Linked DNA regions of Homo sapiens. The main gene of each other region encodes a partner of the protein of the gene in region 2 in a complex. Each region holds a gene or a part of one and is shown on either strand. Other genes may lie near its edges.

Region 1 (7,614 bases), on a different chromosome or scaffold from region 2:
TATTCTGAAGGTAGAATCAAAGGGTCTACAGACAGATCGAATATAAAGCGTAAGAGAAAGGGAGGACTCAGGAATGACTGCTAGGTTTCTGGCCTGAGGAACTGAATCAATACTGAGATGGGAAACACTGGGGAAGAATGGAAGGGACGACTGGTTCAAGGGAGAAATCAAGAGTTTTTCTCTCTTCTTTTTTTAACATGTTAAGTGTAGTAGGCTGAAAAATGGCCCCCAAAGCTAGCAGGTCCTAATCCTGGAACCTATAAATGCCTTATATGGGAAAAGGGCCTTTGCAGGTGTGACTAAATTAAGGATCTTGAGAAGGGGGGATTATCCTGGGTTAGTCAGGTGGGCCCTAAACACAATCACACATATCATAAGAAGGAGGCAGAGGAAGTTTTCACAGACAGAAAAGAAGACAATATGACTCTGGAGGCAGAGACTGGAGTGATACAGTCATGAGTCAAGGAATGCCAGCAGCCACCAGAAGCTAGAAGAGCCAAGGAATGGATTCTTCCCTAGATCCTCCATAGGGAATGTGGCCCTCCTGACACCTAAATTTCAGCCCAGCAATACTAATTTTTGGCCTATAAAACTGTGAAATAATAAATTTCTGTTGTCTTAAGCGATGAAGTTTGTGGTACTTTGTTACAGCAGCCACAGGAGACATACATGAAGTTTGAGATGCCTGTAAAGCATCCAAACAGAGATTTCAAATAAGCTGTTGGCTTAAGAGTCTGCAGTTCAGAAGTTAAAGTTATTGTGTATGTATGTGTGTGTATATACATATTTATGTATGACAGAGAGTCTCACTGTTGCCCAGTGTGGAGTACAGTGGAGCCATCATAGCACACTGTAACCTCAAACTCCTGGGCTCAAGCAATCCTCCCGCCTCCGCCTCCTGAGTAGCTCAGGCATGCGCCACCCTGCCCAACATAGAGACAAGGTCTCACTATGTTGCCCAGGCTGGTCTCAAACTCCTGGCCAGAAAATGCTGGCATTACAGATGTAAGCCACTGTGCCCACACAAGAATTATTATCTTAAATATTCCTTAAGCTTTGAAAGTTGTATTCATGGCTGGGTGCAGTGGCTCACGCGTGTAATCCCAGCACTTTGGGAGGCTGAGGTGGATGGATCACTTGAGGTCAGGAGTTGAGACTAGCCTGGCCCCAACATGGCAAAACCCCAACTCTACTAAAAATAAAAAAATGAGCTGGGCGTGCTGGCATGAACCTGTGGTCCCAGCACGCGGGAGGCTGAGGCAGAGGAGGCAGAGGTTGCAGTGGGCCAAGATCATGCCACTGTACTCCAGCCTGTGTGACAGAGCGAGACTCCATCTCAAAAAAACACAAAGTTGTATTCATACCTCCAGGTCCTTTCGAATGTTCTCAAACTCTTCAATGTCATCAAGCTTTAGCTCTAGGCGTGTTGGTTTCCGTCTCAGCATACTGAAGTCAACACTAAGGGCCAAACCCAGTGAACTATTAGCTGTTAAAAATGAAAGAGAGGAGGAAAATCTGAAGGTGATAAAGTCTCAGATACAAAACATAAAATCAATTTGCAAGCATGTATACTAAAGTGAATGGAAATATTAAAAATTTATTTGAATTTACACATAGACTTCTAAAGTCTTTTTTTTTTTTTTTTTAAGAGATAGGATCTTGCTCTTTGCCCAGGCTGGAGTGCAGTGGCATGACCTTAGCTCACTACAGCCTCAACTTCCTGGACTCAAGCAATCTTACTGCCTCAGCCTCCAGAGTAGCTGGGACTACAGGCGTACACCGCCATACCTGGCTAATTTTTGTGTTTTTTGTAGAAATGGGATCTCTCTCTGATGCCCAGGCTGGTCTCAAACTCTTGGGCTCAAGTGTTCCTCCCTCCTCATTTTCCCAAAGTGCTGGCATTATAGGCAAGAGCTACTGTACCCAGCCAACTTCTAAAGTCTTTAGGTATGTGATTATTACATTTTTGTTACATTATGGAGATCTACAGCTCTATAAAATCAAAAACTCTTTCTGTAAGAATTTAAAATAGCAAACTGCCTATAAGAGAGAAATTCTAGGCAACCATCACTTTAATCTCATGTTCCAGTCACATTCAAAGAACTACTCTAGCTAAAAGAATAAACTATCACATCTTAGTATAGTTAGAGGAAAAAGTGGACAAACCAGTGAATTTAATCTACCCTACATGAGAATTGTCAGAGATTTGTGATCACTCTTGAATGCTAAAATCAGTTTGCTAAATCTCAGGAAAACTCCAACTCACCAATTCACAGGATTATCCTCCGCGTCCAAACAGATCTTAAATGTGTACGTCATTCATTAAACAAACACTTCTTGTGTTCCAGCTACAAAGTTAAAAGGTACAGTCATAATCTGTGGGGAAAACAAAGAGAAAACTGTGATATCATGTAATGAGAACCCTGATGAGGATACTAGCACTGGCATCACACAGGCACCTAATCCAGTCTGGGCTGAGTGTGGGGTGGACAAGGATGTCAGGCAAGCCTTCCTGGAGAAAATGATGTCTTAGTTGACTTCTGAAGGTCAGGCAGAGAGAAGAATGCACAAGGAGGCTCAAGTACAGCTTTGGTAACGTAGCAAGACCCTGTCTCTACAAAAAAGTAAAAAAAATAGCTGGGCTGGTAGTGTGTACCTGTAGTCCTAGCTACTCAGGAGGCTGAGGTGGAAGGATCACTTGAGCCCAGGAGTTTCAGGTTGCCACCGTGAGCCATGACCTCACCATGAGACCCCAACTCAAAAAAAAAAAAAAAAAAAAAAAAAGGCTCAAGAGAGCATTCCACAGCCTGAAATCCCAAGGTAATACTATGTTAACAAAAACCATTTTGTTTTGTTTTGTTTTTGAGAAAACACAACCCCCCAACTGAGTTTAATATCTGTTGATGGCATCATTTGTATATTCTCCACAGCATCCCCTAGAGTGTATCTATAAAAACAGTCAGTAAATGTTTGTTGACTAGAAGGTGAGATCATTCTTGAGCACCGTGCTGTTTTTCCATTCCCATTCTTTACATTCTTATTTTAACACAAAAACCCTGTGAAGTTGACAAAATGATTCCTATTTCACACATAAAGAAGTCATCGAAGCAAGCTGTTCAGTTTGGTTAATAATTTTAGCCTCCTATAAAAATTATAAAGGTCAACATGATAAGCATTAAGTGAAAATGATGGAAGTGAAAACTCCTTGAAAGTATGTACAGATACAAATTATTACACGTATCTAGGATGAAACTAAGGACTGTGAAGTATACAAAGGAAGAAATAGTTCCTTCTCCCATGAAGCTTAGGATACTACAGGTGATATTATCAACACAAAACACTGGCACATTACATTTCAAATTCCTTTGTACTAAATCAGGCATTATCTTCTACCAGATTCCAATGCAGACAAATGGTAGAGAAAGCCAAAGTTCCAAAGAGGGAAAGAGAGGGATAGGGATACCTAAAAGGGGGAAAAAAAAATCTATACATTTTACCTTTTCTGCAAACTGCAAAAAACTGGCCACTAGGGAGCAGTATAGATTAACAGTTAAAAGTGCTGGCTGTAGAGGTTAAAGGGCACAGGTTTTAATCCCACTACACCACCGATCCTGAACAATTCGTTTCATTTCTCACTAGACCTTAGTTCCCTCATCTGTATCCTACTCTGCTGTTGTAGGAAGTCAATAACGTAATACAGAGTAAGCTCTTGGAATATTATTTGGCATTTAATAAATGTTCAATAAATAACATCTATTATTGCTGTAATTGTTCTAGGGGGTTGCATGAGGATCTGGCCAGCTAGGGAAACGTCAATATTTTGAGGATCTCCCACCGCCCATGTGGGGATAAAAACCTTATCCTGTTCGTCTCTAATGCCCCAGCATCCAGCAGGGCAGAGAGACGTACAGAGTTACCTGACACCTTCCTATCCATCATCTTACTCTCAATCTGATACAAAGACCAGGCTGAAGACAAATCAACAAAATCAGGCCGAAGCTCCTCCGCCGGGTCTTTATTTGACTTTGGCACTAGCGGGCTCTTCTAGCTTAATCTCCCGCCGCAGCCCAAATCCACCGCCGAGCCATCAAGCTCAGAGGGGGAGCCTGGGAAGACTTCCGGACCATGGAGGAGAACAGTCCTCGTCCCCTAGCTCCAGGCCTGTACCTCGGAGCCCAGGCAAGGGTTTCTATGGTAACATGGTCCTCGGCTCCAAGAAGACGTAAACGCCCCCGTACGCCCGGGGGGCACAGCGGACCCCGGAAGCCCTTGACTCGCTCCAGAGTTCAGCCCCGAGCCGCGCGAGTCGACTCACCTACCTCTTTTCAAGCCGGCCTAGCCCCTTCCCGGAACCTCGGCTCCCCCCCAACGAAACTACTGCTAAGCCAACTGGACTACACTTCCCAGACTGCTTGGAGCCTCTCTCTCCGCAGAACCTCGTCTTCCGCGAGCTTTTCCTGGAGGTTCTAGGAGGGATGCCCCTCAATGCCACGACGCCATTTCCTACTACGACTTCCATCATGCTCCGCGCCGCTCCGGGGGCGGTGACCCCTCTTGGCCCACGTCTTGTCAGTGACGCACTTCCTGTCAGTGACGCACTTCCCCTCTGCTGGGCGCGCGGTGGACGGTCTGAAAGGGAGTGTTCGGGTTTCGCTGGGGCCTCGCGGCTCCAGAGCCCAGCATGGCTTCCTCGCGAGCCTCTTCCACGGTACAGAGCCCGGGATCCCAGCTCACTCTGGCAGGGAGCGCTAAGGGGGAAGGGGATCTCTGCGGGAAGGGGCCGTTAAGGAGCGGGAGAAGGCGGTGGAGGGCTGAGGAGGAAGGCTGCGGGACTCAGCGGTGTCCTACACAGCGGACCACCGTTTTCCTGATCCCTAAGCGCTTTCGTGGACTGTAGCTTATTTGCACCTCTCCCACTACAGCCCCAAAGGGCAAGCATCTCTTCCGACTCATCCAGTAACGGTGCTCTGAAATAGGGAAGTGTCTTGGCCAAGGTTTATGCCTTTGGCAGATCTCAGAATTTTAATGAGACCTACTAACTCCTACTACCTCACGTCTAGGAACGTTTGAAATGTATACACTTGTAATGTTGTAACTTGTTATCCTTTAGCACCGCGTTGGTTATTTCATCTATCCTTAGTATTTCCCCAGTGATAAGCAGTAATCCGGGAAGCATAAAACACGAGATTGAACACTTCCAACGGAATGAAGTAAACAGATTTCAGAGCAAACCTTTCATAGGAAAATACCCGAGAGAACCTCACTAGTTTTATTAATCCCATCAACCAAAGTGAGGGACTGAAACACCCTCACCCTACCTTCACCTCCTCAAATCAATGAAGAGCGTCTTAAGTAGTGTCCAATTTGTCCTTTCAATTACAGAGGAAACAGGACTGTGAAACTCAGGGTGAGCTTCATCCTCTGGTGAAGTCCGGTAAATTGCCAAGATTAAACCTTAGTTTAATGCAGATCTTTGATTTAGCAGGCAACCAAAACTAAAGCACCCGACGACTTAGTTGCTCCGGTCGTGAAGAAACCACACATCTATTATGGAAGTTTGGAAGAGAAGGAGAGGGAGCGTCTGGCCAAAGGAGAGTCTGGGATTTTGGGGAAAGACGGACTTAAAGCAGGGATCGAAGCTGGAAATATTAATATAACCTCTGGTAAGATGCAAATTGTGAGCCCATCTTTACCTCTTTGTGTAATGAATACCTTTCTAAACTTAAATACCACAGTTTTATAATGTCAAAAAATTACAATTTTTTTTTTTTTAAACAGAGTCTCGCTCTGTCGCCAGGCTGGAGTGCAGTGGTGCGATCTTGGCTCACTGCAACCTCCGCCTCCCGGGTTCAAGCAGTTCTCCTGCTTCAGCCTCCCGAGTAGCTGGGATTACAGGCGCACACCACCACGCCCGGCTAATTTTTGTATATTTAGTAGATATGGGGTTTCACCATGTTGGTCTGGCTGGTCTCAAACTCCTGACCTTGTGATCCGCCCGCCTCGTCCTCCTAAAGTGCTGGGATTACAGGTGTGAGCCACTGTGCCCGGCAGAATTTCAATTCTTAAACTTGCAGCTATAAGGCTGTATTTTGCCTACCCCCTTATTATCATGCAGAGAGCCTTTTTCTTACAATCTGTTATATAGTTTTTCTTCTATGAGTGAGCAGTCTTATCAAAAATTCAGTGTACATTTGGATTCAGATTGATTCCATTTGTCTTCTGGAGATCTAACATAGTTCTGGCATTGGTTTGCAGCTAGAGTGGTTCATGATATTCTCCCTTTTGAAGTTTTGTAATTATTTTTTACCCAAAGTGAAATCTTTTTGTGTGTGTGTGTGTGTGTGACAGGGTCTCACTCTCTTGCCCAGGCTGGAATGCAGTGGCGTAACCTTGGCTCACTGCAACCTCTGCCTTTTGTGTTCAAGGGATTCTCCTGCCTCAGCCTCCCGATTAGCTGAGATTACAGGTGCCCGCCACCACACCCAGCTAATTTTTGTATTTTTAGTAGAGACTGGGTTTCACCATGTTGCCCAGGCTGGTCTCCAACTCCTGACCTCAAATGATCCGCCCACCTCGGCCTCCCAAAGTGCTGGGATTACAGGCGTGAGCCACTGCACCTGACTGAGCTATCTTTTTTTATTATAAAAGTAATAGTGGCCAAGCCTGGTGGCTCACACCTGTAATCCCAGCACTTTGGGAGGCTGAGAAGCGGGAGTCTGGCTTGAGCCCAGGAATCCAAGACCAGCCTGGGCAAATAGTGATACCCCATCTCTACAAAAAGTAGAAAATTAGCTGGGCATGGTGACACGTGCCTGTATTCCCAGCTAATTGGGGTTCTGAGGTGGGGGTTCAAGGCTGCAGTGAGTCATGACTGTGCCACTGCACTCCAGCCTGAACAACAGAGCGAGACCCTGTCTCAAAAAAAAAAGTTATTTTCTTTTAAAAGATCAATGTATAAATGTGTGAAGTAGAAAATCCTGTATTTTTAAAATTAATTGATTGTATATCTTTCTGAGAATTTTAATACAGCTAAAAAGTATGTAATTTTTTCCATAAATGAAAACACAATACGTAAATTGTTGTATAACCCCCATTTTTCATTTATATACCATTGAGGATATCTTTCCATGTCAGTAATGAGAGGTCTACTATATTTTAAAAATAAAATTATGCATATTTGTCCTAAGAAATTCAGACAATGCCAAAGGGCATAAAATGAAGACTCCTCTGCAGTAGGGACATCTGTCAGGTTTCTTATTGATCCTCCCACACATTTTCTAAACACATGCACTGTAGCCTAGTGACTTTTTAAACTTTTAATACTGTTTTTAAACATAACGTCACCACTGTACCTCTCATTTTTTATCACACTTGTATTTTGGTGTGGGTTTCAAAACTATTGCTAGATTATCCAGAAATCCTTATAGTTGTGGAACTCTCATTTTCCTGGTAATTATTTGCAGTTTAGTAGTTAATGATTTGTTAAGTATCCCTATACTGGGTCTCCTTTCGAGAATAAATAGCTTTGGCTGTTGTTACAATAATGTTTCTGTTACATCTTCTGGATAGACAGCCTAGTTAACTCATTTGCAAAAGATGTTCTGTACTCTTACT
Region 2 (7,024 bases):
ATAAATAAAGTTTTCATCTGGGCACTGTGTCTCACGCCTGTGGTCCCAGCATTTTGGGAGGCCGAGGTGGGTGGTTCCCTTGAGCCCAGGAGTTCGAGAACAGCCCGGGCAACATGGTGAAACCTTGTCTGTACAAAAAATGCAAACATTAGCTAGGCGTTGTGGCATGTGCCTGTGGTCCCAACTACTTGGTAGGCCGAGGTGGGAGGATATGAGTCCAGGAGTTCAAGGCTGTGACAAGCCGTGATCGCGCCACTGCATGCCAGCCTGGGTGACAGAGCGAGACCCTGTCTCAAAAAAAAAAAGTTTTCTATTTAGCAGCTGATTTTATGCAGTTTTGAAGCGAGACAATTTCATGTACGAGCTGTCTTTCCATTTTGTAGGAACACTGTCACAGGAGACAATTTCATGGACCTTTGAGCTGTCTTTCCATTTTGTAGGAACACCATCACAGGAGACAATTTCATGTACCTTTGAGCTATCTTTCCATTTTGTAGGAACACCGTCACAGGAGACAATTTCATGGACCTTTGAGCTGTCTTTCCATTTTGTGGGAACGCCGTCACAGGAGACAATTTCATGTGCCTTTGAGCTGTCTTTCTATTTTGTAGGAACGCTCTCAGAGGGGACAATTTCATGTGCCTTTGAGCTGTCTTTCCATTTTGTAGGAACACTCACAGCAGTGCTTGGGGTTCACTGTTACCTAAATCCCATGATGGGTGAGAAGACTGAATGGGACGTTTATTTTTTGTGTTAAAAAGCCCACGCAAATAGAGTTTAAAATAGTCTCAGTGAGCTGGGCATTGTAGCATGTGCCTGTAACCCCACTACTCAGGAGGCTAAGACAGAGTATGAGCTCAGGAGGTCAAGGCTGCAGTAAGCTATCATCGTGCCGTTGCACTCCACCCTGGGTGATAGAGCGAGACCCCATCTCTAAAAACAAAACAAAAAAATTCCTCAGTAATATTATTGACTCATGATAGTACATTTTTTTTGTTTGTTTGAGACAAGAGTCTTCTTGTGTTGTCCAGGCTAGAGTGCAGTGGCACGATCTTGGCTCACTGCAACCTCAGCCTCCTGAGTAGCTGGGACTACAGGCCTGCACCACCACCACACCCTGCTAATTTTTGTATTTTTGGTAGAGATGTGGTTTTGCCATATTGGCCGGCTGGTCTCAAACTCCTGTCCTCAAGTGAGCCAGTCACCTCAGCCTCCCAAAATTCTGGGATTACAAGTGTGAGCCACCATGCCTGGCCCATGATAGTACATTCTAATAAATTGTGTGTAAGGCAGATATATATTTATGGAACTTCATAGGAGCCATATTAAGGGGTGTATCTTAAGTATCACATTAAGGATCACAGAACGCCTACTGAACCAGTGAGAGTCAACACTCAGCTAGATGAGGAATCTTGTAGAAACAAACAGAATGGATATTTTTGGTGTTTCCTCTGGATTTTTGTCTCTGGAAAAAAAACAGCCTTGTAGCTAGCCACAAGGTATGAGGGGTGATGTTGAGCCGTGGTTGAGGGTGCAGACTCTAGCCACAAGGTATGAGGGGTGGTGTTGAGTGGCGGTTGAGGGTGCAGACTCTAGCCACAAGGTATGAGGAGTGGTGTTGAGCGGCGGTTGAGGGTGCAGACTCTAGCTAGGCTCTTGGCACTTCATAACTGCATGAGCGTTACGAACTTGGCCCCGTGGGTCATCTTACCTGTAAAAAGGGCATACTTGTGCCTCACTCATAGGGTTGTGGTGGGATTAATAAAGGTTTCTAGAGCACTCCTGTCACATGGGCAGTAATGCCACTGTTATTACTGTGATTACTTCTCTCACATTACTAAGTTTGCAAGTTATTGTGAGAGCTGATTAAGGCAAACATTAATTTTAGAAAGTCAAGTTTTTCAGTTTTTTTTATGGCTTTGACATGAATTACCTAAAAATGTAAAAATAAACACTTCAAAAATTTGTTGTGCTAATCAACTGCCCAGAACACTTTTTCCGGAATTTTAGGTGTTTTCTTAGCTGGTTGAGGGACTCCATACAAAAGTGTAGAACAGTGGTTGGTATCATGTGCCAGTTTGGTCATGTGTTTTGCAGAGTTATGTCATTGTAACTTGGCAGGTGGACTTAGAGGCATGCGGAAGAACTGCTGAGCACTTTAATTGCTGACTTGCCTAAAGAAAAAGCATGCTTATGAGGTGTATAGGCAACAGAGTTGGAAAAGATACTTACAATTCAAGGCAATCAAAGAATTTAAAAACAATTTGAGGCCAGCGCCGTGGCTTAAACCTGTAATTCCAGCAGTTTGGGAAGCCGAGGCAGGCGAATCATCTGAGGTCAAGAGTTCGAGACCAGCTTGGCCAACATGTTGAAACCCCATCTCTACTAAAAATACAAAACTTAGCCAGATGTGGTGGTGGGCGCTTGTAATCCCAGCTACTCGGGAGGCTGAGGTGGGAGGATCTCTTGAGGCTGGGAAACAGAGGTTGCAGTGAGCCGAGATCACGCCACTCTGCTCCAGCCTGGGTGACAAAGTGAGATCCCATCTAAAAAAGAAAAGAAAAAGCTGCCTTTGTTGAGGAAGTCACAGGATGACTTGGCAGAGCAGTGTGGCTGCACTCACCCAGCTCCTCCTCCAAGCGCTTGGTTACCGTGGAAATGTCGCCACCAGCAGATGCTGCTGGATGTTTGCTGATGTTTGCCCTCAGCTCATGCTCCTCCAGTCACCCCACAGATGCCATTTCACCAAGAAAATGGGGTGGTGGGAGGCTGGGGAGCTCCCCTCTGCCTGCCTCTTTCAGCCTCTCCTATCTGAACTCCCAAGTCCCACAGTAACTTCCCTCTCTCTCCATAGCCACGGCTTTTGAAAGTTGTCCACACTGAAGTCCTCTGTTCCTCAGTCCTTCAGCCCCTGCAGTGTCCCCGTTCCCATATCGTCCTTTCTGGTAACCTCTCTGGGGCACTCGGCACAGCTCCCCGGAGTCTCCTGCCTTGGTTTCTGAGACTGCCTCCTTGGCATCCCTTTCCTGCCCCCAACTCTACAGTGGGCTTCTGCACTCACTCCCAAGCCTGGCACCTGCCACCCTGGCTGGGATCACTGCTGGATGTAGGTGGCGGCAGTAAGGTAGCTCTCTCCAGCCCAGACTCCATTGTACAGCTCCAGGCCAGTCGCTACCTGGAGGGCCTTTTTCTCTGGATGTCCCTTAGTTTTCTCAAACTCAGTATATACAAAACTGAACTCTTCAATTCCTGCTTTCTTAGAAATAAATACATGGCCCAGAATCCCAAGTGGAAAAGGTCCTCTGTGGGCCAGTCCACCTGCGCATCGGTCCCCACTGTCCTGCACTTCTGCTTCCTTGCCCTGGTGCTGGATCTGAGACCTGGCTGCTGGTCTTGTGTCTTTCTCTTTACACATGGAATTCTCTAAGGACAGATATTTCCCTGCCACCCCGTGACCACACTGCCGCCCCGTCTCCTGTGGGTTAGGCTGATTCTGTCATCCAGAGTTCAGGCTTTGGAGCCAGACAGAGTGCATCTCAGCTCTGCCCCTTCCCCGTGCGGCTGGGCATCACTCACGTGACCTTTCTGAGCCTGAATTCCATCACCTAAAACATCGGCGACATCTATTTAGAGGTGTTGAAAGAATTAGAATCCATGAGTGAAAAGTGCCTCATACATGGTGGATTCTCAAGTGTTCATGAAACTGGTCTGTGGTGAAATCAGAGGATGTTCACGTTCTCGTGGCACGTGAGCTTTATGTGGTAGTTTGCCTCTGTTAGAATTCTCCGGGTTAGATGCAGTGGGCCGGAGCTTGAAGGCAAAAGGAGAGTCACATTTGTATCTTTAAAGTTACAGTTACTCAGTTGCCCTCTGATTATTGTTGTTGTTGTTAGTTTGAGAAGGAGTCTCGCTTTGTCCTTCAGGCTGGAGTGCAGTGGCACGGTCTCAGCTCACTGCAATCTCCACATCCTGGGTTCAGGTGATTCTCCTGCCTCAGCCTCCCAAGTAGCTGGGATTACAGGCGTGCACCGCCACACCCAGCTAATTTTTGTGTTTTTAGTAGAGACAGGGTTGCACCACGTTGGCCAGGTTGGTCTCGAACTCCTGACCTCAAGTGATCCGCCCGCCTCAGCCTCCCAAAGTGCTGGGATTACAGGCGTGAGCCACCTCACCTGGCCCTGCACTCTGTTTATTAAATGCCTACAAATTATTAAAAACCACAGATGCTTATAATATTTACTATTTTTTACGTGCAAGAAAAGGGATGGTAAAAATTTGTTGTGACCTTTCTTTTTTCTTAAGTACACAATTTACAACCCTGTCCAAATGATATTTCAAGTAATTTATTATTTGCATGGTGATTCCGTAAGTTAATATGATGTTACTGGTATTTATTGTATCTGTCCCTGAGCAAGGCATTGAAGGGAGAATAATGAAATATTATTTTGACTTTCCTAATGCCTGTGACCATTTATTTTGTTGGTGTATTTATTTTAGCTTCTGTAGGGAAGTATTTTGTGTTTAAGTCAAATCAAAAGACAGTTTATTAGTTTACCATGAAAATAAAGCTGGATTCTGGCAACCTGACCAACACATTCTCACTGTGGACGCTGCGGGAAACTAGAGTTTCAGAAATGGGCGTTGTCAGAGTGACCGGACTCAGAGGGGCCCATGTCTAATGCAAACATCACTTTGGGGTTTTGAAAGCACATGGACGGGGAGTCGCATGCCCCTGCAGTGGGCCGTGTGCTCACTTTGGGGTTTTGAAAGCACATGGATGGCGAGTTGCATGCTCCTGCAGTGGGCCGTGTGCTCACCTTGGGGTTTTGAAAGCACATGGATGGCGAGGCGCACGCTCCTGCAGTGGGCCCTGTGCTGGAGTTCTGATACGGTTTTTTTCACCAAAGCTGAAGGGCAGTGGAGTCTTTGTGAAGTGTGGGCTTTCCCCCTCCCCCTCTCCCCACCCTGCTCCATGGTTTACATTTCCATCTTAATTTTTAAAAAATATTTCCCAAAGTAGAGAATATAGTGAACCCGTCTGTTCCTATTGTTCCACTTCAACAATTGCTGGTATTTTGCTGGTCTTGTGTTACCTAACCCCTCATTTTTTTAGGCTGTGTGTTTCATGGAAATCCCAGATATAATTATTTCACCTGTAAGTTACAGTCAGGTTGTAAAGATTTAGTTTTATATGAAGAAATGTTGTGCATATCCCATTGATTTCCCGTGACTGCTGTGAGAGGATGCTGCAAGCTGAGGGGCTTAAAACAACAGAAACTTCTCTCACAATTCTGGATACCAGAAGTCCAGAATCGAGGTGTTTTCCAGGCTGGGCTCTCTCTGAAACCTGCCAAGGAGAGTCCTCATGCTTCTCCCAGCTTCTGGTGCTGCCAGCAGCCTCTTGGAGCTCCTAGGCTTGTAGACGCCTCTGCAGTCCTCGATGCCCCCAGAGCCTCCTGTCCCTGTGTCTTTATGTGGCCATTTTCCTCTAAGGACACCAGTCACACCAGATTAGGGGCCCACCTACTCCAGTATGACCTCATCTTACCTTAACTGATTACGCCTGCAGTACCGTTTCCAAATAAGCTGCGCTGTCACTTTGGGGGTTTAGGACTTCAACTGTTTTGGGGACACAGTTTAACTCATAACACATGTAAGTGGCTACAAGCTTCTAAAGGGCATTGAGTTAGTATTTATAAAGAGCCTTTAAAATGTCATATCCTTTGTTCCAGAATTTTAGGAATTTGTCTTTAGGAAATAATGAAGTATGTATACAAATTTAAGGGGGAAAATGTTCACAGATGAATAATATTAATGAACAATCAGAGAGTAACAGAAGAATGGTGTAGGAGGCTCTTCTCGCATTGCTATAAAGAAATACATGAGACCGGGTAACTTATGAGAAAAGAAGTTTAATTGGCTCACAGTTCTGCAGGCTGTACAGGAAGTGTGGTACTGGCATTTGCTTCTGGGGAGGCCTCAGGACCTTCCAATCATGGCAGAAGGCAAAGGGGAACAGGCACGTCGCACGGTGAAAGCTGGGGCGGAGTGTCACACACTTGGAACAACCTCAGCTCACTACCCCGAGGACAGCACCAAGAGGATGACGCTCAACCATTGATGAGAAATTCATCCCATGATCCAGTCGCCTCCCACCAGGCCTCACCTGCAACGCTGGGAGTTACGTTTCAACCTGAGATTTGGGCAGGGACAAATATCCAAACTATATCAAATGGTAAAGTAATGGCATAGCCATTTGATGAATCACGCAGCCATAGAAGTTTGCCATTTTTGGAAAGTAGGTAATGTATGTAAAAGAATGCTCTTAATTGGCCGGCGCTGTGGCTCACGCCTGTAATCCCAGCACTTTGGGAGGCCGAGGTGGGTGGATCACCTGAGGTCAGGAGTTCGAGATCAGCCTGGCCAATATGGTGAAACCTCGTCTCTACTAAAAATACAAAAATTAGCCAGACGTGGTGGCACACACCTGTAATCCCAGCTACACGAGAGTTTGAGGCTGGAGAATAGCTTGAACCTGGGAGGTGGAGGTTGCAGTGAGCCAAGATCATGCAACTGCACTCCAGACCAGGCGACAGATCGAGACTCCGTCTCAAAAAAAAGAAAAAAAAAAGAATGCTCAAAATTAAAGCAGCATACAAAATATTGTAGTACGATCACAATATGACCATATTTTGCTATGTCTGAACAGAAATAATATGAACAAATTAAAAAATATATATCTATAAGAAAGGGGAAAGAATATAGTAAAAATATTGCCAGGCGTGGTGGCTCATGCCTGTAATCGCAGCACTTTGGGAGGCCAAGGCAGGCGTATCACTTGAGTCCAGGAGTTCAAGACTAGCCTGGGCAACATGGCAAAACCCTGTCTCTACAAAAAATACAAAAATTAGCCAGGTGTGATGGTACGTGCCTGTAGTCCCGGCTGCTTGGGAGGCGGAGATGGGAGGATCGCTTGAGCCCAGGAGGCAGAGGTTGCAGTGAGCCAAGATCTTGCCACTGCACT
Region 3 (7,151 bases), on a different chromosome or scaffold from region 2:
GAAACCTATACTCAGGGCCAACTAACAGAACAAAAAAAGAAACAGAAATGGGAAAAACTAATCAAGATGAGTTCCTATTGTTTGGGTGGCAACAATATCGAAAAAAAAGTCCACTAGCCGGGCGCGGTAGCTCATGCCTATAATCCCAGCACTTTGGGAAACCGAGATGGGTGGATCACCTGAGGTCAGGAGTTCAAGACCAGCCTGGCCAACTATGGTGAAACCCCGTCTCTACAAAAAACACAAAAATTAGCCAGGCATGGTGGTGGGTGCCTGTAATCCCAGCTATTCAGGAAGTTGAGGCAGGATAATTGCTTGAACCTGGGAGAAGGCGGTTGCAGTGAGCAGAGATCGTACCGCTGCACTCCAGCCTGGGCGACAAGAGCAAAACTCCCTCTCAAAAAAAAAAGAAAAGAAAAAAGCCCACTAATAGAACAAGCCACAAACTGGGAGAATATATTTGGTATACATAAAATCAACAGAAGATTTGTTTGCATTTTACATAAAGAAATCCCATAAAGCATGAAAAATATGAAATATGTCACAAGCACTAAAATAAACTAATTGTAATACAAATGTACCATATAGTTGTGTGTTTCGTTTTTTTTTTGTTTTTTTTTTTTTGAGACGGAGTCTCGCTCTGTCCCCCAGGCTGGAGTGCAATGGCGCGATCTCAGCTCACAGCAACCTCCGCCTCCCGGATTCAAGCAATTCTCCTGCCTCAGCCTCCCGAGTAGCTGGGACTACAGGCACAAGCCACCACACCCAGCTAATTTTCATACTTTTAGAAGAGACGGGGTTTCACCATGTTGGCCAGGCTGGTCTCGAACTCCTGACCTTGCGATCCACCCTCCTTGGCCTCCCAAAGTGCTGGGATTACAGGCGTGAGCCACTGCGCCCGGCCACAAATGTACTACGTAGTTTAAAGAGTGGCTGGGTGAGTGGCTCATGCCTGTAATCCCAGCACTCTGGGAGGCAGAGGCAGGCGGCTCACCTGAGGTCAGGAGTTCAAGGCCAGCCTGACCAATATAATAAAACCCCATCTCTACTAAAAAATACAAAAATTAGCCGGGCATGGTGGCATGCACGTGTAATCCCAGCCTACTTGGGAGGCTGAGACAGGAGAATTGCTTGAACCTGGGAGGCAGAGGTTGCAGTGAGCTGAGATCGTGCCATTGCACTCCAGCCTGGACAACAAGAGTGAAACTGTCTCAAAAAAAAAAAAAAGAATGTACATGTGTATCTATAAATCTACCACTTGTCAAAAACTTGAGTGGGTCTCAGATCTTACCCTACTCGCAAGCTAACAAGTTAGCCTGTCACAGTTTTATGAATGCTGATGGAAAGCATGTGACTACCTGGCCTGAAATAAAGGACAGTTTATTAGAGCAATGACAGTAGCCGGAATATAGCATTGGTGTCAGTTTTCCAAGTGAATTCCCACAAGGCAAAGTGAGGAGAACCCATGCACACAGTGAGCTGCCTTACAGGAGACGAACCCCGTGCTTAGAGAATCTGAACCATTAACCATTTTTTCAAACGAGGTCTCGCTCTGTTGCCTATCCTAGTCTTGAACTCTACCTCATCCTATAGAGTAGCTGCGATTACAGGTGTGAGCCACCACACCCTGCCCCAAATCTTTTATAAGGGATTGTGCCCTTGTCTCCTCGTTTTGTAGGGAGACACCATTTCTATCTTCCAAGGCTGCTCACTACACGAACATCCTTAACGAGAGTCCAGGAGAAAAGGCAGTCAGGCAATGGTCGCAGTACGTGCACAAACTCAAGAGACTAATGGAAAATTGTCTCCAGACTTTATTCAGCTTAAAAAGTGCTACATAATCCATACTTTAGTAGAGGTGCCTATTGCTCAAGCATTCTGAATATCTTGATTACAGAAATTACAAGACCTTAGATGTAAAAACTGAAGGAAAGCCGTGCACGGTGGCTCACGCCTGTAAACCCAGCACTTTGGGAGGCCGAGGTGAGTGGAACACTTGAGTCCAGGAGTTCGAGACCAGCCTAGGCAACATAGCGAGACTTGCTTCTCTTAAAACGCAAAAAAAAAAAAAAAAATTCTTTTTTAAAATGGAAGGAAGTAACACTTGTAAAATCAGCACTGAGCCCCCACATCGGGCATTCGATAAAGGGAAGCTGCTGTTGTTACGATTTTTGCAGTTAGAAATACCATACGTTTGGCCGGGCACGGTGGTTCACGCCTGTAATCCCAGCACTTTGGGAGGCCGAGGCGGGCGGATCACGAAGTCAGGAGATCGAGACCATCCTGGCTAACACGATGAAACCCCCTTCTCTACTAAAAACACAAAAAATTAGCCGGGCGTGGTGGCGGGAGCGGTGGTGGGCGCCTGTAATCCCAGCTACCTGGGAGGCGGAGGTAGGAGAATCGTTTGAACCGGGGAGGCAGAGGTTGCAGTGAGCCGAGATCGCGCCACTGCACTCCATCCTGGGTGACAGAATGAGACTCCATCTCAAAAAAAAAAAAAAAAAGAAAAAAGAAATACTATACGATTATTGAGAAGGGTACTGTCTTCATCAGAACAAGTCGAACAGCAGAATCGTCGAGTCTGGATCCCTCCTCTTCTCCACCCCAACCCCACCCCTCCCCCAACTCCGGCGCAGTGACCTAGCGGAAGATTAGAGACAAGAAAAAAGGACGCGAAAAAAACAGGCTCTCGCGCCTAGCCCGGCCCGGCCCCGCGCACCTCGCACCTCCCGCTCAGGCTCCGAGTCCTCATCGACCTCGCGCTCCCGCTTCACCCGCACAAACGGGACAACAGAAGCCGGGGCCTCGCGCGCGCTCGCCGGCTCGAACTCCCGCTTCACGCGCACAGGGCTGCCCCGGGAGCTCGCCGCCTCAGGCTCCCGCTCCCGATCTCGCTCCCGCTTGACGCGACCGGAGCTGCCCCGCGACTCAGACTCTCGCTTCCCGCGAGTGGAACCGCGAGACTCCCGCTTAGACCGGCCGGACATCTCCACTACCGGCCGAGTCGTCCAGCGCAGGCGCCAAGCACGCTCGAGCGCGCGGCACAAGGCCAATCAGGAGAGGGGCTGGTAGCGAGCCCCGAACTCTCTACGAGTCGCCACTGGGGACAAATCACGCTGCAGAAAATTTGTGGGCGGTGCTGTTCCTGCACTGGCTTCCTCTCCCCTTAGAACCTTCTGTGGGCCTACTGTCGTTTACAGTTTACTGAGACGGGAACCTTTACTGGCGACAGTTTTCTGGATAAAAGCTGTCAGGCCGGGCGCGGTGGCTTACGCCTGTAATCCCAGCACTTTGGGAGGCCGAGGCGGGTGGATCACCTGAGGTCGGGAGTTCGAGACCAACCTGACCAACATGGAGAAACCCCGTCTCTACTAAAAATACAAAATTAGCCCGGCATTGTGGCGCATGCCTGTAATCCCAGCTACTCGGGAGGCTAAGGCAGGAGAATCGCTTGAACCCAGGAGGCGGAGGTTGCGGTGAGCCGAGATCGCGCCATTGCACTCCAGCCTGGGCAACGAGCGAAACTCCGTCTCAAAAACAAAGAAGCTGTCATTCGGCCCCAGATTTGTGCCTCGAAACCACCACCGTGAGGTCGTTTCCCACAGTCTCCGCGGCTTGGGGGCTGACAATCCTGCACAGGAAAACTAGGCGACATTCCCAAATCATCCCCTTGACAGCCCTAATTCTACTTTTAGAAGGTTCTTGGTACCATGAAAACGCAAATGCCCGGTAAAGGCAGATTTACCATGAAGCTAATAAAGCTCTAACCTCAGGACCTGCCTTGAACTTGTTTGCTTGTTTGAACCGTTCCATTGAGGTATAATTGACATACAACAAACTACATGTTTAAAGTGTGCAATTTAGGCCAGGCGCTGTGGCTCATGCCTATAATACCAGCACTTTGGGAGGCCAAGGCGGGCGGATCACCTGAGGTCAGGACTGGAGACCAGCCTGGCCAATATGGTGAAACCCCATCTCTACTAAAAATACAAAAATTAGCCGGGCGTGGTGGCACGAGCCTGTTAACCCAGCTACTTAGGAGGCTGAGGCAGGAGAATCGCTTGAACCCGGGAGGCGGAGGTTGCAATGAGCCGAGATCGCCCCATTGCACTCCAGCCTGGGCAACCAGAGTGAAACTCTGTCATACCCACACCACACCACACCACACCACACCACACCACACCACACCACACCACACCACACTGTGTGCAATTTACTGAATTCTGACTTGCGGTATATGTCAGAGGCGTTTCAACCAGACCAACTCCATCTTGAGTGAGGGTTAGGAAAATGAGGCTGGGCCTTGACAGGCTGCATTCCCAGGAAGTTAGGTATTCCTAGCCTAGAGATGTCTACAGTTAAGGGAACAGAGAGATAATGTTTACTAAACAGATCCAGACTTGGGAGTGTCCTAATATCCCAATATCTGGAGAATAAAGGCATTCCTAATTTTGCTTTAAAGATAATATTTCTTCTTGCAAAATATAATAATAAAATTAATCCTTTATCACAAACCCTTGTAGCAGAGCACATCTCCCCATGATCTTTTTATCCTATATATAAACAAGCATTGTAGCCATGGTGGATGCGTTCCTCCTTTTACTTTCAGGAACGCCCTATTCTGTCAATGGAGTAGCTGTACTTTCACTACTTTACATTTTATTTTTTTGATACAGAGTCTTGCTCTGTCACCCAGGTTGGAGTGCATTGGTGAGATCTCGGCTCACTGCAACTTCTGCCTCCTGGGTTCAAGTGATTATCCTGCCTCAGACTCCTGAGTAGCTGGGATTACATGCACCTGCCACCATGCCCGGCTAATTTTTGTATTTTTAGTAGGCACAGAGTTTCACCATGTTGGCCAGGCTGGTATGGAAGTGCTGACCTCAAGTGATCCGCCCGCCTCCCCTTCCAAAGTGCAGGGATTACAGGCATAAGCCGCGACACCTGGCTACTTTACTTTCTTAATAAACTTGCTTTTACTTTGCACTGTGGACTCACCCTGAATTCTTTCTTGCACAAGATCCAAGAACCCTCTGCTGGGGTCTGAATAGGGATCCCTTTCCTGTAACATATACACCCATGAAGCCATCACCACAATCAAGAGACGGGATCTGGGCCCAGTACGGTGGCTCACACTTATAATCCCAGCACTTTGGGAGGCCTGAGGCAGGAGGATCACTTGAGGTCAGGAGTTCAAGACTAGCCTTGGCAACATAGAGAGACCCCCCCCATCTCCACAAAAAAATTTTAAAATTAGCTGGGCATGGTGGCATGCTATTCAGGAGGCTGAGGCAGGAGGATCGTTTGGGCCTGAGAGGTGGAGGCTGCAGTGAGCAGTGATTGCACCACTACAATCCAACCTATGCGACAGTGAGATCCTGCCTCAAAAAAATAAAAAAATAAAAAAAAATTTAAAGAATCTACCCAGCCCCAAAGATATCCTCTTCCTCCCAGAGAACCCCCACAAAAATCAACTGATCTCTCGGTCACTATAGATTAGTTTGCACTTCCTAGAGTCTCATATAAATGGAATCATACAGAGTCCCTGGCCTCTTTCACTGGGCATATTTATTTTATGATCCATCCATGTTGTTGAGCTACAGATCTTCCTTTGGATTGCTCAGTAATATTCCATCGTGTGGCTGGACCACCATTGGTCCCTGTTTTTTGTTTTTGTTTTTTGTTTTTTGATTTGGAGGTTGGACTGCAGTGGCTCGATCTCGGCTGACTGCAACCTCCGCCTCCCGGGTTCAAGCGATTCTCCTGCCTCAGCCTCCCAAGTAGCTGGGATTACAAGCACCGGCCATCAAGCCCAGCTAATTTTTTGTATTTTTTTTTAGTAGAGACGGGGTTTCACCATTTTGGCCAGGCTAGTCTCGAACTCCTGACCTCTTGATCTGCCCGCCTGGGCCTCCCAAAGTGCTGGGATTACAGGCGTGAGCCACCACGCCCGGCTCTTTCTTTCTTTTTTAATGTATTTTTTTCTTGTAGAGACGATGTCTCGCTGTGTTGCCCAGGCTGGTCTCAAATTCCTCCCTCCAGCGATACTCCCACTTCGGCATCCCAAAGTTTTGGAATTACAGACATGAGCCACTGCATCCAGCCGTTTGTCCCTGTCCTAATCATGAATTCCTGATTTTGACTTTTGTAAAAGGACTTGAGAATTTTACACGCTGTGACGTGAACCCAGTGGTCAGAAAAAATAGAAAAAAAAAAAAAAGGGGCCGGGCACGGTGGCTCATGCCTGCAATCCCAACACTTTGGGAGGCCGAGGCAGGCGGATCACCTGAGGTCAGGAGTTCGAGACCAGCCTGGCCAACGTGGTGAAACCTTATCTCTACCAAAAATACAAAACTTAGCCGGGCGTGGTGGCACGCGCATGTAGTCCCAGCTACTCGGGAGGCTGAGGCAGGAGAATCGCTTGAACCCGGGAGGCGGAGGTTGCAGTGAGCCGAAATCACGCCAATGCACTCCAGCCTGAGCGACAGAGTGAGACTCCTTCTCAAAAAGAAAAAAAAAAGGAAAAATAAATAAAAAAGAAAATAATACACCCGTAGGTCCCTCAAAAACCCTGGGTCCTCCCGCGGGGACAGTTAAGCCATCGGCGCCGTGAGCAGGAGGCAAGCCGGGCCAGGAGAGCCTTCGCGGCGCCTGCGGCCTGGGCGCCGCTGTTGCCCTGCCTGAGCACTTCAAGGCCTCACAATCCATTTGAGGTAGGTGCTCTAGGTGTTCCCATTTACTAATGAGGAAACTGAGAAGTGGCAGCGTTACACAGTCAGCCAAAGTCACGCAGATGGCGATGGATTGCACAGCATCCTATTACCAGAAAAAAGATGGGAAGGCACCGCCGTAAGCATCGAGTTGTGTTATAGATGATTTGCATTTTTCTGAAGGTTCTGGTATCAGCTGTAAGCCGAAGTCCTTGTTTCCTATTGATATGTTACGAAAAAACAAACAAAAAAAAACAAAAACAAAAGCCCTCCGTCCGGGGGGTGGAAGTCAAGCATACCCTACTCCACCCGACCCGACCAGACCCGAAAACTCCGTGCGCTGCATCGCTTGGCCAGGCCGGGGCCTCCCAGACCGGAAGTCAGGATGCGGGGCCGGAAGCTGAGCAAGGGGCGGCGCGGAGCTCTGTGGGCGGGTGG
Region 4 (7,024 bases), on a different chromosome or scaffold from region 2:
CCTTTCTTCTTCTCTTTCCCATTTGAAAGTTGCAGACTTCTTGACACTTTACCCCTAAGTATTTCAGCAAGGAACTCCTAAAAATAAGAACATCCTACGTAACCACAATATTATCTAATATATAGTACATTTTCAAACCTCCCCAATTGTCCCAAAAGTAACTTTTGTAGCTTAAAAAAAGGTGATCCAATCAAGGTTCCCATATTTCATTTCATTTGGTTTACACAAGTAACATAATACACTCTCATTGTGAAAACTTTCACACCAAACAGATAAAGTGAAAGCCCCTCTTGACAATACCCACCTGCAATTCCACTCCCCTTTCCAAAGGTCACTTCCTTATTAGTTTGATGTATGTCCATCAGGGCCTTTGCCTTGCCCATCTAATTTTGGGAGGTTTTCTTTTTCCCAAATGAAATCATACTATATTTTTCATGTTCTAAAAAATATGTCTTGAAAACTTTTCCTTCTTAGTTCATGTAAAACCACCTTGTATTAAAAAATGAAAACAGCCCGGCAGGAGGTGGCTCACTCCTGTAATCCCAGCACTTTGGGAGGCCAAGGAGGGCAGATAGCTTGAGCTCAGGAGTTCGAGACCAGCCTGGGCAACCTGGTGAGATCCCGTCTTTCCAAAAAAAAAAAAAATTAGCCAGGTGTGGTGGTGCATGCCTGTAGTCCCAGCTACTCAGGAGGCTGAGGTGGGAGGATTACTTGAGCCCAGGAGTTTGAGGCTGCAGTGAGCTATAATCACACCACTGTACTCCAGCCTGGATGACATCAAAAAAAAAAAAAAAAGGAAAAGAAAAACCGAAACTGCAGTGCAGGCTGAGCATCCCTAATCCGAAATCCCAAATGCTCCAAAATATGAAGCTTTTTGAGCACTAACATGACATTAGAAGTGGAAAATTCCACACCTGACTTCATGTGATGGATCATAGTCAAAAATCTGTTTCATGCACAAACGTATTAAAAATATTGTATAAGATTACCTTATACAATAGCTATAAGTAGCTAGGACTACAGGTGCATGCCACCACGCCCAGCTAATTTTTATATTTCTTGGTAGAGATGGGGTTTCATCATGTTGGCCAGGCTGGTCCCCACCTCAAGTGGTCTGCCCACCTTGGCCTCCTAAAGTGCTAGGATTACAGGCGTGAGCCACTGCCCCCAACTGAGCATTAGTTCTTAATTTTATATGTTGTAATTGTTTTCTTCAGAATATATTTTAAGAAAAAAATTAGTATTGTGTTGCTTAAGTTTGGTGATATTCTTTGTTAAAGAGAAGTTCTAAATTTTGATGAAGTCCAAATTATCAGTCTTTCACTGCTTTTCAGTTTTGTCTCATTTAAGGTCTTTACTACCTCAGATCACAATGTTTTCTGTGTTTTTTCTAGTATTTCTTTTTATATGGTGGAGCTAAGATCATTTTTCTAGTATTTTTAAAGTCTTATTTGTACATTTATAAAATCATCTATAATTAATTTTTCTGTATAGTGTTAAGATAGGACTTTTTCTTGTCTTTTTTTCCAAATGGAGATCCAGTCAAATACCTGACCATTTTAATGACTCTACAACACACCTTTATCTGTGACCAACTCTGTTCAGAAAGCTGGCACTTACAGGCATTCAGTAAAAATTTATTACATGAGTTAAGTAGAGAGGGAGAATGTCAGGCATTTTAGGCGGGGAACTCGTGTGAGCAAATGCTGAGGCTGGAATGCACAAGTGTGTGCTGAGAGCTACATGTGGACCTCTCTTGTTCAGCCAGATGATCCCTTCTCAGGCCCACTTGACACCCTGAGCTTTCCTTTCTGCCAATACTGGGTCCCCCTTGGGCCCAGCCTGCTCTCCCTCTTCAATGGCTGCTGGCCATTCCCTCCGTCTCCTACTCATTTCTTTGCTGTAACTAAAGTTGAGTTCATAGGTCCTTTCTTTTCAAAGACTGACCACTGATCACTACCAGAGGACAAACGATAACAAAAAGAATAAAGTTTAGAAATTCTTAATGTTGGGGCCTCTTTTCTGTATCTTTTTGAGTCTTTTACATAAAGTTACTGGAAGTCCTTGTTGAGGTTTTATTTCTGAGGGTGGGGATCATCAACCCTCCCCGCTCTCCCCCACTGTTAGCAAAAGTTATATGAACTTTTGCTTCCAAGAAAGCCCTTCTTCTCAGCCTGCAACCCAAGCAGAACGCATTCCTCAGGTGGCCATTGTACATTCCACAGGCCCGCTAGACCAGGACTGTCCATAGGCTGTGATGATGGAAAGATTCTAGATCTGGGAGGTCCAGTATGGTTGCTACCAGCCCCATGTGACAACGGAACACTTAAAATGTGGCTGGTGCAACTGAGGGACTAAACTGTTAACTTTTTATTTTTTATTTATTTTTTATTTTTTTGAGATGGAGTCTCGCTCTGTCGCCCAGGCTGGAGCACAGTGGCGCCGTCTTGGCTCACTGCAACCTCTACCTCCCGGGTTCAAGCAATTCTCCTGCCTCAGCCTCCTGAGTAGCTGGGATTACAGGCGCACGCTGCCATGCCTGGCTATTTTTTGTATTTTTAGTAGAGACGGGGTTTCATCGTGTTAGCCATGCTGGTCTTGAACTCCTAAGCTCAGGTAATCTGCTCATCTTGGCCTCCCAAAGTGCTGGGATTATAGGCGTGAGCAAACATTCCCAGCCTATTTTTTTTTTATTGACAGAACTAAGCTGTAGTTTATTAAATTTAAATTAGGCTGGATGTGGTGGCTCACACCTGTAATCCCAGCACTTTGGGAGGCCGAAGCAGGTGGATCGCTTGAGGCCAGGAGTTTGAGACCAGCCTTGCCGACATGGTAAAACCCATCTCTACTAAAATTACAAAAATTAGCCGGGCGTGATGACACACGCCTGTAATCCCAGCTACTCCAGAGACAAAGGCACGAGAATCTCTTGAACCCGAGAGGCAGAGGTTTCAGTGAGCCAAGATTGTGCCATTGCACTCTAGCCTGGGCGACAGAGCGAGACCCTGTCTCAAAAATAAATAAGTAAATAAAAAAATAATAAATGTAAAGAGCCAGTTGTAGCTAGTGGCTACTGTACTGGACAGTGAACTCTTTTAAATGTAAGCTTCTCAATCTACTCGCCCTGGCTTGCTTAGAACTGAATCTCGTAGCTAATACTTAAGGGCACTATAATTAAAGCAGTTATCCTTCAATGAATTCTTCCTGTGCCCGGATAATGAGCTAAGAACTTTACTTGAATTATCGCATTTCACTTTACCAAAAATCCCTCATAGGTTTTAAGGTGTTAGGAAATCTGGGTGGCAGTCTAATGTAAAGGGGTTCTACAGATGGGCACCCCATTTTGGGTTTCTGAATAATGTGATTTAAGAAAAATTAATGAAAGAGGAGATGAATTTCCCATGGAGCAGGGGTGTGGAGGGAAGGGAAGTGGTATTTTTAAGCCCTATTGGGCAGTATTTCTTTCTTTCTTTTTTTTTTTTTTTCGAGACGGAGTCTTGCTCTGTCGCCCAGGCTAGAGTGCAGTGGCGCGATCTCGGCTCACTGCAGACTCTGCCTCCCAGGTTCAAGCAATTCTCCTGCCTCAGCCTCCCGAGTAGCTGGGATTACAGGTGCCCACCACCGCACCCAGCTAATTTTTGTATTTTTTAGTAGAGACAGGGTTTCACCATCTTGGCCAGGCTGGTCTCAAACTCCTGACCTCATGATCCATCCGCCTCGGACTCCCAAAGTGCTGGGATTACAGGCATAAGCCACCATGCCTGGCCGGGCAGTATTTCTTATACTTTAACGTTCATACGGATCTCCAGGAGATTTGTTATAAAATAGTGGTTCTGACTCAGTGGGTTTGGATGGGGACTGAGATTTTGCATTTCTAATCAGCTCTCAGGTGATGCTGATGCAGACTGTGAGGCAAGTCAATAGGGGATAAGAGTCTATCTTTTAATTGAGAACTTGCCATATTCCAAAAAAAAAAAGACCAAGAGGAAGTACTCTCTTGGTGGCACTAGTCCAGCAGGAATCCATTGCATTCACATCAAGGTATCACCTAATCCTGCATTTGAGGCCTTGTGCCCAGGCACTGGACATATGCAGTGAAACAGCTAAGAAGGAGATAGAAGACGGGTCACTTGATCAATTCTACCTCCCTATGGAGCACTTCTTTCCAGAACCTTTGTGTTTTGCCTTCCTAGGTTCTGACTTTGGTTTTAGTGAAAATGAAGTTTTGTGTACAATTTTTTTTTTTTTTAAGACAGAATCTCACTCCGTTGCCCAGGCTGGAGTGCAGTGGCACGATCTCAGCTCACTGCAACCTCCGCCTCCCAGGTTCAAGCGATTCTCATGCCTCAGCCTCCCGAATAGCAGGGATCACAGGCATGCTCCACCACGTCTGGCTAATTTTTTTGTATTTTTAGTAGAGACAGGGTTTCACCAAGTTAGCCAGGCTCGTCTCAAACTCCTGATCTCATGTGATCTGCCCGCCTTGACTTCCCAAAGTACTGGGATTACAGGCGTGAGCCACCATGCCTGGTCTGTACAACTTTAGTTATAGAAACCTTGGTTTTATCTCAGTGAGTTCTGGGAGAGTTTTTTTTTTTAGACAGGGTCTTACTCTGTCACCCAGGCTGGAGTGCAGTGGCGCAGTCACAGCTCACTGCAGCCTCGACCTCCCTGGCTCAAGTGTTCCTCCCACCTCAGCCTCCTTAGTAGGTGGGATTATAGGCGTGCAGCACCACACCCAGCTAACTTTTTAGAGATGGGGTTTCACCATGTTGTCCAGGCCGGTCTCAAACTCCTGGCTTCAAGCGATCTTCCCACCTCAGCCTCCCAAAGTGCTGGAATTACAGGCATGAACCACCGTGCCCAGCCCTTGGAAAACTTTTTATGATGAATTTGGTTATGTATAGCATAAATGAACCTCTACACTCAGGATTCTCCTGCTGTAGTCTGAATGGGTTGTTTGCTACTTACATGGACATGGGAGAGGGTGGCACCTCTCTTTTGAAAGCCCGAGTTCTGGCAGCTCTGCTAGTCTGATATGCTTACCCTCTTCCCTGTGATCCTCAAACCTGGTACCAGTACCAAATGGTAGAGAGCTTTCCTTAATTCATTGTTGCCTAGATTCTCCAACAGGTAATAATCATTTTGGGGCACTCGTTAAACCTACGAATTCCTAGATCCCTTCCCTGGAGTATTTGATTGAGTGGCTTTGGGGTGGGACCAGGATGTTATGTTTGTAACAAGTATCTCACATGCTTCTTAATAGAGAAGTGTGGGAAACACTACTTTAGTTAGTGGTGGGATGACTGTCTTTTATTTTAATATTTGGATCTTAGGAAAAAATACGGAATTAGCACAATACATCATTTTACAGTTATTACAGCTTATAGTGAGGCAATATTGAAGTTCAAATAGTGATTAGCTTAAAAAATAAATTGTACCTGTGGATGATAGATATTGTAACAGTTGTGAAGATGCTATTTGAATGACTAAGGTTTAGGAAACACTGTGTTTCATTCTAGAATTACCTATAGATGCGAGACATTCCCGTAGGGGAAGATTAGGAAATATGTGTTGGTGGCAGTTGGGCTGGTCCTCTATTCATTCCACAACTAAGCGCTGATGAATTAAGATAGTTCCCATGCTGCATATGAGGCTACAGATTTGAAAAGTCAGTTCCATCCTTCAAGGAACTCAGTCTCTTGGGAGAACTGACAATTACAGTACAATAAAGCCCTGTATTGGAGGTTTTAGAACAAGGTGAGGAAAGCATAAATGCCCGGATCTTCCCAGAGTGGTTGAGTAGACTACAGAAGAGATGATGCTTCAGTTTAGTACAAGAAAGAATATAACTTGTCAGGTGGCTAAAACTGGGCAGGGCATTCCAGGCAGAGGGAACAGCCTATGCAAAGTCACAAAGGCAGGAAACAGCAGGAAGTGTAGAGGAAGCTGCAAATAATTCAATATGACTGAAGCAGGAAGATATGAAAAGCAAATGGTGAGAAGGTTGGAGAGAGGCCAGGGCCAGTAGTGAAAGCCAGTGCCAAGTTTAGCAGTTCATATGTTATTCTGAGGGCAGAGGCTGACTTTCAGGCATGAAGTAATTTTTCCCTTTTGGGGAAGGAGTCCACTGTGCTCCTGAGATTCTCAAAAGGGGCACTGACCCTCCAAAAAAGAATCAGGCCAATATGAACCACTTAAGGATTTTCAGCAGAATACTGTAGATGAATTTTCATGTTCAGAAGATGATTCTAGCAGCATTGTGGAGGATGGGCTGGAGGCCAGTGAGGAGTCTACTGCAGTAGTAGTCCAGGCAAGAGAAAAGAGGTTTTACATGAAAATATGGGTCTGGGGAACACTGGAGATTTGGCAGCAAATATTTATGTGCCTGCTGGGCATGTGACACTGTATGTTCCCTGTCCTGAAACTCAGAAGCTCTGCCAGCTGAAAAGGCCAGGAGTGGAGAGAATGTCTGGCTCCAGTCCATTCCAGTCCAGTACAAAGGCAAAGCTGCTTGCATTGCAGCCAAGTCTTACACACGTAGAGGTTCCATTCTCTTCAGTGGAATACTATACAGCCTTAACAAAATAAAGAGGTAGATCTGGATGTGTTGGCAAGATTTCTAAGGTAAGTTAAGTGACAGTCAAGATGTAGTAATTTATGTAAGCATGTTACTGTTTATTTTGAATGACTTTCAGGAATCTCTGCAGTGATATATAGCAGACTGTGGATAATACTTCTGCAGAGTAGAGATAGCAAAGAGACTTTTCAGTTGCCTTATTTAAGCTTGAATTTTCTACCTTGAACATGTATCTTGTAATAGAAATACATACTGTTTATATGTAGTGTTAACTAATCCTAAATCCTCCCAGCACTTCCCAGGAGCCTGCCCACAGCTGTGGCTAACATCAGGTGTGAATCCATTGCTGATCCCTCCACCTCCTCTTCCAGGTCTAAGCCCAGACAGTGGGTGCTCCCACAGCACTTGGTTCATCTCTCCACTGTGGCATTTAATATACTGTAT

Evidence for each region.
Region 1: TXNL4A (region 2) and PRPF4 share a complex: the UniProt entries of both Homo sapiens proteins name them as parts of the precatalytic spliceosome.
Region 3: TXNL4A (region 2) and USP39 share a complex: the UniProt entries of both Homo sapiens proteins name them as parts of the U4/U6-U5 tri-snRNP complex.
Region 4: TXNL4A (region 2) and PPIH share a complex: the UniProt entries of both Homo sapiens proteins name them as parts of the U4/U6-U5 tri-snRNP complex.

Annotation. Positions count from the first base shown.
Region 1 is NC_000009.12:113,271,063-113,278,676, forward strand, and holds the start of PRPF4 (U4/U6 small nuclear ribonucleoprotein Prp4), read left to right. Parts: upstream 1-4,595; 5' UTR 4,596-4,681; coding exon 4,682-4,708; intron 4,709-5,482; coding exon of another isoform or gene 5,483-5,485; coding exon 5,486-5,663; intron 5,664-7,614. Other genes in the region: anaphase-promoting complex subunit CDC26, read right to left, coding at 1,365-1,445. UniProt on the Homo sapiens protein: Plays a role in pre-mRNA splicing as component of the U4/U6-U5 tri-snRNP complex that is involved in spliceosome assembly, and as component of the precatalytic spliceosome (spliceosome B complex).
Region 2 is NC_000018.10:79,978,544-79,985,567, reverse strand, and holds part of TXNL4A (thioredoxin-like protein 4A), read left to right. Parts: intron 1-7,024. UniProt on the Homo sapiens protein: Plays a role in pre-mRNA splicing as component of the U5 snRNP and U4/U6-U5 tri-snRNP complexes that are involved in spliceosome assembly, and as component of the precatalytic spliceosome (spliceosome B complex).
Region 3 is NC_000002.12:85,612,035-85,619,185, reverse strand, and holds the start of USP39 (ubiquitin carboxyl-terminal hydrolase 39), read right to left. Parts: upstream 3,001-7,151; 5' UTR 2,991-3,000; coding exon 2,723-2,990; intron 1-2,722.
Region 4 is NC_000001.11:42,668,416-42,675,439, forward strand, and holds part of PPIH (peptidyl-prolyl cis-trans isomerase H), read left to right. Parts: intron 1-6,872; exon of another isoform or gene 6,873-7,024. UniProt on the Homo sapiens protein: PPIase that catalyzes the cis-trans isomerization of proline imidic peptide bonds in oligopeptides and may therefore assist protein folding. Participates in pre-mRNA splicing.